3 linked regions of the Homo sapiens genome follow. The protein of the gene in region 2 purifies or fractionates together with the protein of the main gene of each other region. This does not show direct contact. Each region holds a gene or a part of one and is shown on either strand. Other genes may lie near its edges.

Region 1 (2,784 bases), about 51 Mb from region 2:
GCAATTAATTTATGACTAATAAATTATGATAAAGCTTATATTTTTGCTTTGGTGATACTTTGGATTATTTTAGTTTTTTTAAAATGACCAGTAGAGAATTTGGCAGTATTCTCTAGTGCTGCACTTGGCTTCTGTATCAGTAAGAATTCTAAGATTGTAAGCAACAGAAGCCCACTCTGGCTAACTTAAGGAAAAGATAATTTATTTGAGGGATATTAAGATTCCATAGACTTAGCTGAAAGACCAGACAGCCAGGCTTGGAAACAGAAAAGACGCATAGTAGCACTGGAAAGCTCAGAAGCAAGATTTAGAAGACTTGTACAACAACAGAAAGTATCTCACAGAATAAAGCTATTGGAATGAATGAATTTTAGCAACCATTTTCAGTTTCTTTTTCCTTCTGCTCAAGATTCAAATTGAAGAGCGCATGGGTATCTCATGATTCTACCTCACACCTCAAGCTTTCTCCTTGCCACAGAGATAGCAGGATACCTGATTTAAAATGCAGGATACCTGATTTAATTTCACTGTATTGTATCCATGGAAAGTGATAGTTCCTCAAAAGGAAATTGGAAGGCAAATACATCCTGCTTAGTTTATAATTAAAAGAGTAAAGAGTCTTCTTTCCCTTCCTCCTTTCAGATTGAGGAGCATGCCATACAAGATTTATTGGTTTTCTATGAGGCATTTGGCAACCCTGAAGAGTTTGTCATTGTTGAAAGGACACCGCAGGGACCACTGGCAGTACCTATGTGGAATAAGCATGGATGCTAGTTCACTGTGGAGTTGAGATGCATTTTACATAATTATGAGTTTGTTCATATAAAGAAAAGCTGTGGAAAAGAGTCTTAGAGATTTTGTAATATCATTCTAAATAGATTAAGAAAAGATATAATTTCTTTACTGCAGTTAAATCATATAATGTTTGTATGATTAAAAATAAATTTCTCAGAATTGTGATTTTAGTAACTTTATATAAAATGTGTGAGACAAAAACTTATTAAGGTTAAATAGAATTGTTTCTTCTGAATAATCTAACAAAGGAAAATATAAGTGATTGAATCATAAGATATAAGGGGGGTAAAGTATTAAAAATAACTTTTTTGTTTGATAACTTGAGAATTTAGAAGATTTTGCCAAGTATGTGTTGTTGCTTGACTTCTTAAATATGGCATTGATGAATTTAAAGTAGGAGCATCAGTTATTACTTCTGATTCATTAATGGCCAGAATTTTGTGTTTGGTGTAATAGTTGTGTCACCATTCTTGTTGCTTTTTAAAAATCAGGCTAATCATGTGGTCCATGTCTCTTCAAAGCTTGACCTGCACAAATGCCATATTTCTATTTGGACCACATATTCTCCATTTTGCATTGAGCAGTAGAGTACAGTGGAAAGGGAATAAGAATACTGATTATTCTGAACAGTTTAGTCCCAAGAGAATAGCGTTTTAAAAAAGAAAAACAAGATTTGGAGTCATTGTGGGTTATTTTTGGTGGGATGGAGGATCTTAAAAATGCCTAATTGTGAGAGAATCAATTGCTGAAAGTGTTAAAATTTCTGAAAATAAATGCTTAATTACATATACAGGAATTAAATAGTTTGGAAGAGGGTTGGATTATCATTACCTTTACAATACTGTATAATCAGAAGTTCTCTGAACCTCAATTGTATATCTAGACATAAAAATTGTTTTCTGTATAGGATGTTGTTTGGTTTGTTTCTGAGTGTTTAAATTTTGCAAAAACAAATGTTAAATTTGTGCTTCAGTACCTAGATAAATTGGAAAGGTTAATGTTCTAGTTTCTGGAAGGTAAGCCTGGGAGACACATAAGCAATTCACTGCTATAATTTAGTTGATGTAAAATGACGGAAACTGACTCAATATGTCAGGTTTAACTCTGCCCAAAAGCAGCAGACATGTAAGCAGATGTGCAATAAAAAATGATCTTGATCCATTTCACTAATGTGTGCTTGACATTTTTTACTATATTGACATTTATTATGGAAAGAGTTAATAATTATTTTTTCTGATGTGCTACACTAGTGGCCAGTATATGGTTAAGTTGATGCTGTATTTATTCTAAGACGGATTTAAAAAGGCAGTTTTCTAAATATGAACTTGTGAATTTTTGTATGTGTGTTTGAGTAAATTGAGAAATGAATTTTATAAATGTTCTATTGATGTTGCAGTAAAGAAGCCTTTTGAAGTAATTGATTTCATTTGAAGCTTTGATTCTTCTGTATATGTTGACATCTTTAATATTTACAGATGCTGTAAAGTGATGATTTTCTTGCTGTCCTCCGTGCTGCCTGGGAAGCACTCTTGGGGGTCTTTGTTGGATGGGGTGTGAAAGAGGGGCAAGAGCTGAACCGCATCTGTGAGGCTTTAGGCAGTTACAAACTACAACCAGAGCAGTTGCACTTTATGGTCTGTTTTATGTAGTGAGGTATTATATATAATTTTATTGGGAAAAAAGGAGTTCTTTTGCTAGTAAAGTTAAAGAGAAACACTGTCATAAACTGTATTTCTTCATAAATAATTCCATGAAGATAGCTATCTGACACATTGCTGTCAAAAAGCCCAGGAAAGTGATAAGGGTTTTCTTTCTCCCCTAACAAAATAACATTATTCTGCTACAGTATTCATCTCTAATTCCATAACCTCAAAAAGACCTGATAGAATTGAATAAATACTGGAAATGACAAATTTAAAATATCAGTGGGATAGAGAGATCTTTAAGATTTATGAAAACAATTACAGAACTCTTTTTTTTTTTTTTTAA
Region 2 (3,755 bases):
CGCACGATGAAGCTGGACGCCTGAGTCCCCCAGAGGAAGGAGGAACTAGATACCTAGGTCCCTGTGGGGGGCCCTTGGTGCCCGTCTGAGGCTCAGTCTTTGAGGGGATTGCAGAGGGGGGTTGCTGGAGCTCCTTTTAGCGTCTCTGAAGGGGATTCTGTGTGAGGGGATTGGGACTGGGGGGTTGGGGAGCAGGAAGCAGTCCCCAGGGGAGCCATCCAGGCCCATTCAAGGGTTGAGCACTTGTTTAGGGTTAGAGCTGCCCCCTCTGGGGACCGGGATTGTCCAGCCAAGGCCATTGTCCTGCCCCCTTCCCCCAGTCCCTCCCAGGCTTCTTTGAACCTGAAGTCAGATATTTTTTCTCCACACCCCCCACCCCCTGGTTTTCCCCACCCAGGGCCTAGGGCTGGAGGCCTGGGCCAGGGAGGTGGGGGAGGGAGAACGGGGCCTACCGTGGTATTAGATGTCTGAGTTTTGGTTGAGAGGGGAGCAAGGAACCTGATGTGCAGGTTCCATAGTGGAGGGGGCCCAAAGCGGGTGTCTTATCACTCTGTTTCAGCAAAGGTTGGGAAACTGAGGCCCAGTCAGTCCAAAGTCTGGTCCCTTGAAGGGGAAGTAGGGACCAACCCCTTAGTCTGTTAGATGAGGAGAGTCTGGAGTCTGATTCTGGAAGACGGAGGGGTGGGGGGATGGGGGGGTGGGGGGATATAGCACGGAGGCCTTGTCTGGCAGTCTACTCTTGAAGATGGGGTGAAATTTGGCAGGCTGGGCAGATGGTGCCAGGCACCCAGGCTGCGGGGTGGCTGGATTTGGCCAGTATCGGGATGGGAATGCCTAGGATTCTGGATGGATCGGGGGAAGGCATAAGGGAGCAGCTGGCCATTGTGCTTATGGCTGTTGATGCATTGAGGGATAGCGCCACACACACATTCAATAAATTTGAGGAGCTGAGAGGGTGACTGGCCCCTGAAGGCACAGTGCCAGAGGTCTGTGGAGAGGGGGTCAAGCACCTGGGTTCCTGAAGAACATGGAGGTGTGGGAGTGATTCCAGACAGCTGGGATGTGCAGAGCCTGAGAGAGTGCCAGGGAGCGGGTTGGGAGTTGAAAGTTGGGTGTGGTGGCTCACGCCTTTAATCATGACACTGGGCGGCAGAGGCGGGAGGATTTCTTGAGGACAGGAATTCAAGACCAGCCTGGGTAACATAGCAAGGCCCCATCTCTACTAAAAATAAAAAAACTAACAGGGCACAGTGGTCCAAGCCTGTAGTCCCAGCCACTTAGGAGGCTGGAGCAGAAGGATTGCTTTGGCCCAGTAGATCGAGGCTACATTGAGCCATCATTGTACTCCACTGCACTCCAGTCTGGGCAACAAAGTGAGACCCTGTCTTAAAAAATAAAAATAAAAAAAGTTTCTGTGGGGGACCTGCACTGAGGTCCTGGAGGGGCGCCAGTTGTGTCTCCCGGTTTTCCCCTTCCACAGACACCATTGCCACCACCATTAGGCAAACATCCTTCGCCTCAGTTTCTCCCCCCACCTCCCTCTCCTCCACCCATCCAGGGGGCGGGGCCAGAGGTCAAGGCTAGTGGGTGGGACTGGGGAGGGAGAGAGGGGTTGAGTAGTCCCTTCGCAAGCCCTCATTTCACCAGGCCCCCGGCTTGGGGCGCCTTCCTTCCCCATGGCGGGACACCTGGCTTCGGATTTCGCCTTCTCGCCCCCTCCAGGTGGTGGAGGTGATGGGCCAGGGGGGCCGGAGCCGGGCTGGGTTGATCCTCGGACCTGGCTAAGCTTCCAAGGCCCTCCTGGAGGGCCAGGAATCGGGCCGGGGGTTGGGCCAGGCTCTGAGGTGTGGGGGATTCCCCCATGCCCCCCGCCGTATGAGTTCTGTGGGGGGATGGCGTACTGTGGGCCCCAGGTTGGAGTGGGGCTAGTGCCCCAAGGCGGCTTGGAGACCTCTCAGCCTGAGGGCGAAGCAGGAGTCGGGGTGGAGAGCAACTCCGATGGGGCCTCCCCGGAGCCCTGCACCGTCACCCCTGGTGCCGTGAAGCTGGAGAAGGAGAAGCTGGAGCAAAACCCGGAGGAGGCAAGTGAGCTTCGACGGGGTTGGGGTGTGGGGAGGTGGTCATGACAGGGCAGCCTGATGGGGAAGTGGTCACCTGCAGCTGCCCAGACCTGGCACCCAGGAGAGGAGCAGGCAGGGTCAGCTGCCCTGGCCAGGGAGGGGTGTGTATCAACTGCTGGCAGCCCTGGCAGGCAGGGGCCAGGTGGGAAGTGGAAGCTGGATTTCGAAGAGACAACTGCCGGTGAGGGCAGAGCAGCCTGGGAGAGTCGGAAGCTGGCCCAGGCTGGCCTTTGCTCTGGCCCAGCCCTTGTCAGGGTCTCTCACATCTCCTAGGCCTGCCCAGGGTCTGGTCACTCATTACTGGCCCAGCACCAGACCCAGCTTGGGGTTGGTTTGAGCCCCTTTTCCCACCCTTAGTCCTGCTTGAAAATTTGACCCTTATCAGACCCAAGATTTTGGCCTTAGGGTTAAGCATAGCCTGAGGGTAAAAACAGTGCTCATTCCAGGATTATTGTTCCTGAAAGTCTAGGGTGTGACTCGTTTCTGATAGGATCTCCTGTTTGGGCTGTGTGTGTGCGCGTTGTGAGCTGGGTTTACCTCCAGTCAAGTATAGGGCTTGTCTTCCCCGGATCTCTGCCTCAGGCCAATGACTGGCCACTGTGTTAAGGTGCACACCCTGGCACCCCTTGTAGAAAGCTGGATTTTGATTGACTTCAGCCTCAGTTCCAAAGTTGTAAACAAGAAAAATGGTGAGAGATTTCTCCAGGCCATTTGCAAATATAGAGCTGCTGCGGGATTGAAGGCATCCAGCCCTGCTGAGGACTATTAAAGATGTATCTTCCAGTCCTTCAAGGCGACAAGTGTAAGCAATTAGAGATTAAATACTAAGCCTTGAGACCTCACAGAAAGGTGTGACTGGTTTCTGGAGTGACCGAGAAGCCCCAACCTCTTCGCAGGAGGTCACTGCTGAGCCTTGAATGATAATGGCTGGCAATTGTGGTCCACTTCCTAAGTGCCTGGCTGTGTGCTCCGTTTATACATCATTATCTCATTAACCAGCACAAAATCTCCTAGGGGGAGGTATTATTATCCTATTTAACGGGTTTTAACTGCTAAATGATGAAGCGAGGATTTGGACCAGTGTTTATTCCAAAACCCCAAAACAGAATTTGGAAAATCCAAGATAGCAGAGGGCATTTATCAGTTTGAGTTATTGGCTGAGCAGAAGTTGGGGATGAAAACAGCCTATTTGAAATTGATATGATCAAGCACCATTGAAACACTTCCTTGAGGCTTCAGAACTACAAAAAGGCCTTGTTTTTTTCTCACTAGCTGTGCACCTCTGTCTGCCGGCAGCCTCATATGGCATGCCCCAGGGCTCAGTCCTTCAACCTCTGCTCTATCTACCCTTCCTTCCTCTCACCCACCCTCAAGGCTTAAATGCCATTTAGACACCAGATGACTACCGCGTTTTCTGTCTCTTGTGATGGCTCCCTGAACTGCTCCACCCTGATCACCCAGTTGCTCAAGGCCAAACCCAGTCATCCTCAGTTTCTTTCATGTCCTACATCCTATCCTTAAGAAACATCCTGAATCAATCACAACCTAACCCTGGCCTCAGCCACCATCATCTCTGCTGGGATTACCGCAGTAGCTTCTCAAATTATACTGCTTCCTCCCTACTGTCTGTGGCCA
Region 3 (3,620 bases), on a different chromosome or scaffold from region 2:
CTGGCCTGGCAACTTAGTAGAAGATAAATTTGAGTTGTAGTGTTTCTGTAGTTGAGAATGAGTGAATGGAAACCTGTAGAAGCAAAGCAGTTAGGAGAAAATCATCTAGAGAAATGTTAGCCTTGAGAGTGAGTTCCACAACCACTTAGCTGTAGTGGTTGAAGGAGGAAAGAATCCTACCTCCAAATTACAACTTTACAAGAAACAGAACTACTAACCTTGAGAAACCATTATTTATGCCATTTATCAGCCCAAACTGAAAATTTAGTGCTCAAAGCTGGCACTATTGTATAACACAAGTTGCAGCATAAATTGTTAAAACCCTGTTGAAGGGCCGGGCATGGTGGCTCATGCCTGTAATCCCAGCACTTTGGGAGGCCGAGGTGGGAGGATCATGAGGTCAGGAGATCAAGATTATCCTGGCCAACATGGTGAAACACTGTCTCTACTAAAAATACAGAAATTAGCTGGGAATGGTGGCACATGCCTGTAATCCCAGCTACTCGGGAGGCTGAGGCAGGAGAATCGCTTGAACCCAGGAATCAGAGGTTACAGTGAGGTGAGATCGCGCCACTGTACTCCAGCCTGGTGACAGAGCGAGACTCCGTCTCAAAACAAAACAAACAAAAAAACCTTGTTGAAAATCATTCATTCATTGAAGAAGTATCTATTAATTACCTTCTCTGTGTCAAGTGTTTGGTAACTGAGCAAATATATAGCTTTTTTAGGAAGCAGTTTAGAACACAGTTTGTTAGTCTTGAAAGTATTCACAAACATTTCCATTTTTGAGAATTTTTCTTTCTTTTTTTTTTTTTGAGACAGAGTTTCACTCTTGTTGCCCAGGCTGGAGTGCCGTGGTGCGATCTCGGCTCACTGTAAGCCCCGCTTTCTGGTTTCAAGCGATTCTCCTGCCTCAGCCTCCTGAGTAGCTGGGATTACAGGCACCTGCCACCACGCCCGGCTAATTTTTGTATTTTTAGTAGAGACAGGGTTTCACCATGTTGGCCAGGCTGGTCTCAAACTCCTGACCTCGTGATCCACCCGTCTCAGCCTCCCAAAGTGTTGGAATTACAGGAGCCACCCTGCCCGGCCAAGAATTTTTCTGATAGAAATCCCTAGGAAGGAAAAAAGTAACATGCCCAAGAATATTCATTGTATCACAATATAATAACAGGACATTTGGAATAGCTTAGGTGTCCAGGAGTAGGGAACTTGATAAGTATATTCTAGTGTATTGATTTGATGAAATAGGATACAGCCATTAAATAATTATGAAGATTGGAGAAGAACGTACAGAATCAACAGGGAGAAGTGGAAATTACATACATGTAACGTTGAACTATATGAAGTTGCTAATACATGGACAAAAAGACCTGAAGAGAATGTGAGAAAGTATAAAATGGTTGATTATGGTAATGGGATTAGGATTTTTTTTTTCTTTCTTGTATCTGGTATTCTTTTTTTTTAAATTTATTTTTTTGGAGATAAGAGTCTTGCTCTGTCACCCAAGCCAGAGTGCAGTGGCATGATCTTGGCTCACTGCAGCCTCCACCTCCTGGGTTCAAGCGATTCTCCTGGCTTAGCCTCCTGAGTAGTTGGAACTACAGGCGCACGCCACCATGCTCGGCTAATTTTTTGTATTTTTAGTGGATATGGGGTTTCACCATGTTGGCCAGGCTGGTCTTGAACTCCTGAGCTCAGGCAACCTGCCTGCCTCAGTCTCCCAAAGTGCTAGGTTTACAGGTGTGAGCCACCACGCTTGGCCCTGTATCTGGTATTGCTAAAATGCTTGGGTAACATATTTTCCTTTAAAATCTTCAAGGACTGACAGGATAGATCACATCCACATCACTCTACATTGATTCACCTGGAAGCTTTTGTATTACAGGGCCATTATGGTAGTGAGTGCACAATTGCAGTCCACTCAAATATTCATTAAGTTAAAATCTTTTTTTCTTATGAAACTTTATGAAACATTTCACACATGCACAAAAATAGAATACATAAACACTCATCATCAACTATGATACCATTGTCACACCAAAAAAATTAGCAGTAATTCTTTGATATCACCTAATAACCTGACTATTTTCTCCACTGTGGCTTTAGATATGTTGGCTATACTGTTAGCTGACCTCATAGTTAAATCAGGATAATAACCATCCCAGTTTTACTGGGACTTGGGGCTTTCAGTGCTACATGCAGGCAAACCAAAACAGTTGGTCAGCCTACTGTCAGCAGCAGACTGCAAGGTCAGTGTGGTTGTTTTAAGTGTATCTTCCTCACCATCCAAGTGTGCACTCCCAAAATTCACACTCAGTCAGAGGAAGAATTGTTTATTAATTAGATCTGGGAGTTGATGCTAAGGGAATTTCACAAACAATGAAGTTAAGACAAGTTCCTCCCTTTAGTGAGCTCACTGTTTCAAGTGGAGGATCAAGACCATTAGAAATAAACAAAGTCGAAGCCAGGTATGGTGGTTCACGCCTGTAATCCCAGCACTTTGGGAGGCCAAGGTGGGTGGATCACCTGAGGTCAGGAGTTCGAGACCAGCCTGACCAACATGGAGAAACATCTACTAAAAATACAAAAATTAGCCGGGTGTGTTGGTGCATGCCTGTAATCCCAGCTACTCAGGAGGCTGAGTCAGGAGAATCGCTTGAACCCGGGATGCGTGGAGTTTGCAGTGAGCTGAGATCGCACCATTGCCCTCCAGCCTGGGCAACAAGAATGAAACTCCATCTCAAAAAAAAAAAAAAAAAAAGAAAGAAAGTCAGAGGTTAAGTGGTGTGGATGATCCAGAGGGAGGAGTTGAGAAAGTCAGGGTAGGGTCAGAGTAATTGAATACTCAGAAACATCAAATTGAGCCTTAAAAGATTGGGTAAAATTTCTAAATTTTAACCGATACATACTATAGCTAGGACTTTTAAACTTCCTCATTATAACACAAATTTTGGGATAAGAAAACGTGTGTAAAAGGCCATTTGGGCTGGATGCAGTGGCTCACTTTGGGAAGCCAAGCTGGTAGGATTGCTTGAGGCCAGGAGTTAGAGATTAGCCTGGGCAACATAGCAAGACCTCATACAAAAAAGTTTTGGTCTTTTTTTTTGGAGACGGAGTCTCACTCTGTTGCCCAGGCTGGAGTGCAGTGGTGTGATCTCCGCTCACTGCAAGCTCCACCTCCCAGGTTCACGCCATTCTCCTGTCTCAGCCTCCCGAGTAGCTGGGACTACAGGTACCTGCCACCATGCCTGGCTAATTTTTTGTATTTTTAGTAGAGACGGGGTTTCACCGTGTTAGCCAGGATGTTCTCAATCTCCTGACCTCGTGAGACCTCATACAAAAAATTTACAAATTAGTAGGTAGGGCCAGGCACAGTGGCTCATGCCTGTAATCCCAGCACTTAGGGAGGCCAAGGCAGGGGGATTGCTTGACCAGGAGTTTAAGACCAGCTTGAGAAACACAGGGATACCCTGTCTCTACAAAAATAAAAAAAAAATTGGCTAGATGTGGTGGCACGTGCCTGTGGTCCCAGCTACTTGGGAGGCTGAGGTGGGAGGATCTCGGGCCCAGGAGGTCGAGGCTGCAGTGAGTCGTGGTCATGCTGCCGCACTCCAGCC

What was found.
Region 1: the proteins of POU5F1 (region 2) and IBTK purify together in Homo sapiens (affinity purification with mass spectrometry, with the first as the bait; one large-scale study listed by BioGRID). This does not show direct contact.
Region 3: the proteins of POU5F1 (region 2) and PDCD7 purify together in Homo sapiens (affinity purification with mass spectrometry, with the first as the bait; one large-scale study listed by BioGRID). This does not show direct contact.

Annotation. Positions count from the first base shown.
Region 1 is NC_000006.12:82,169,415-82,172,198, reverse strand, and holds the end of IBTK (inhibitor of Bruton tyrosine kinase), read left to right. Parts: intron 1-642; coding exon 643-774; 3' UTR 775-2,212; downstream 2,213-2,784. UniProt on the Homo sapiens protein: Acts as an inhibitor of BTK tyrosine kinase activity, thereby playing a role in B-cell development. Down-regulates BTK kinase activity, leading to interference with BTK-mediated calcium mobilization and NF-kappa-B-driven transcription.
Region 2 is NC_000006.12:31,168,542-31,172,296, reverse strand, and holds the start of POU5F1 (POU domain, class 5, transcription factor 1), read left to right. Parts: upstream 1-1,614; 5' UTR 1,615-1,676; coding exon 1,677-2,081; intron 2,082-3,755. UniProt on the Homo sapiens protein: Transcription factor that binds to the octamer motif (5'-ATTTGCAT-3'). Forms a trimeric complex with SOX2 or SOX15 on DNA and controls the expression of a number of genes involved in embryonic development such as YES1, FGF4, UTF1 and ZFP206.
Region 3 is NC_000015.10:65,120,198-65,123,817, reverse strand, and holds part of PDCD7 (programmed cell death protein 7), read left to right. Parts: intron 1-3,620. UniProt on the Homo sapiens protein: Promotes apoptosis when overexpressed.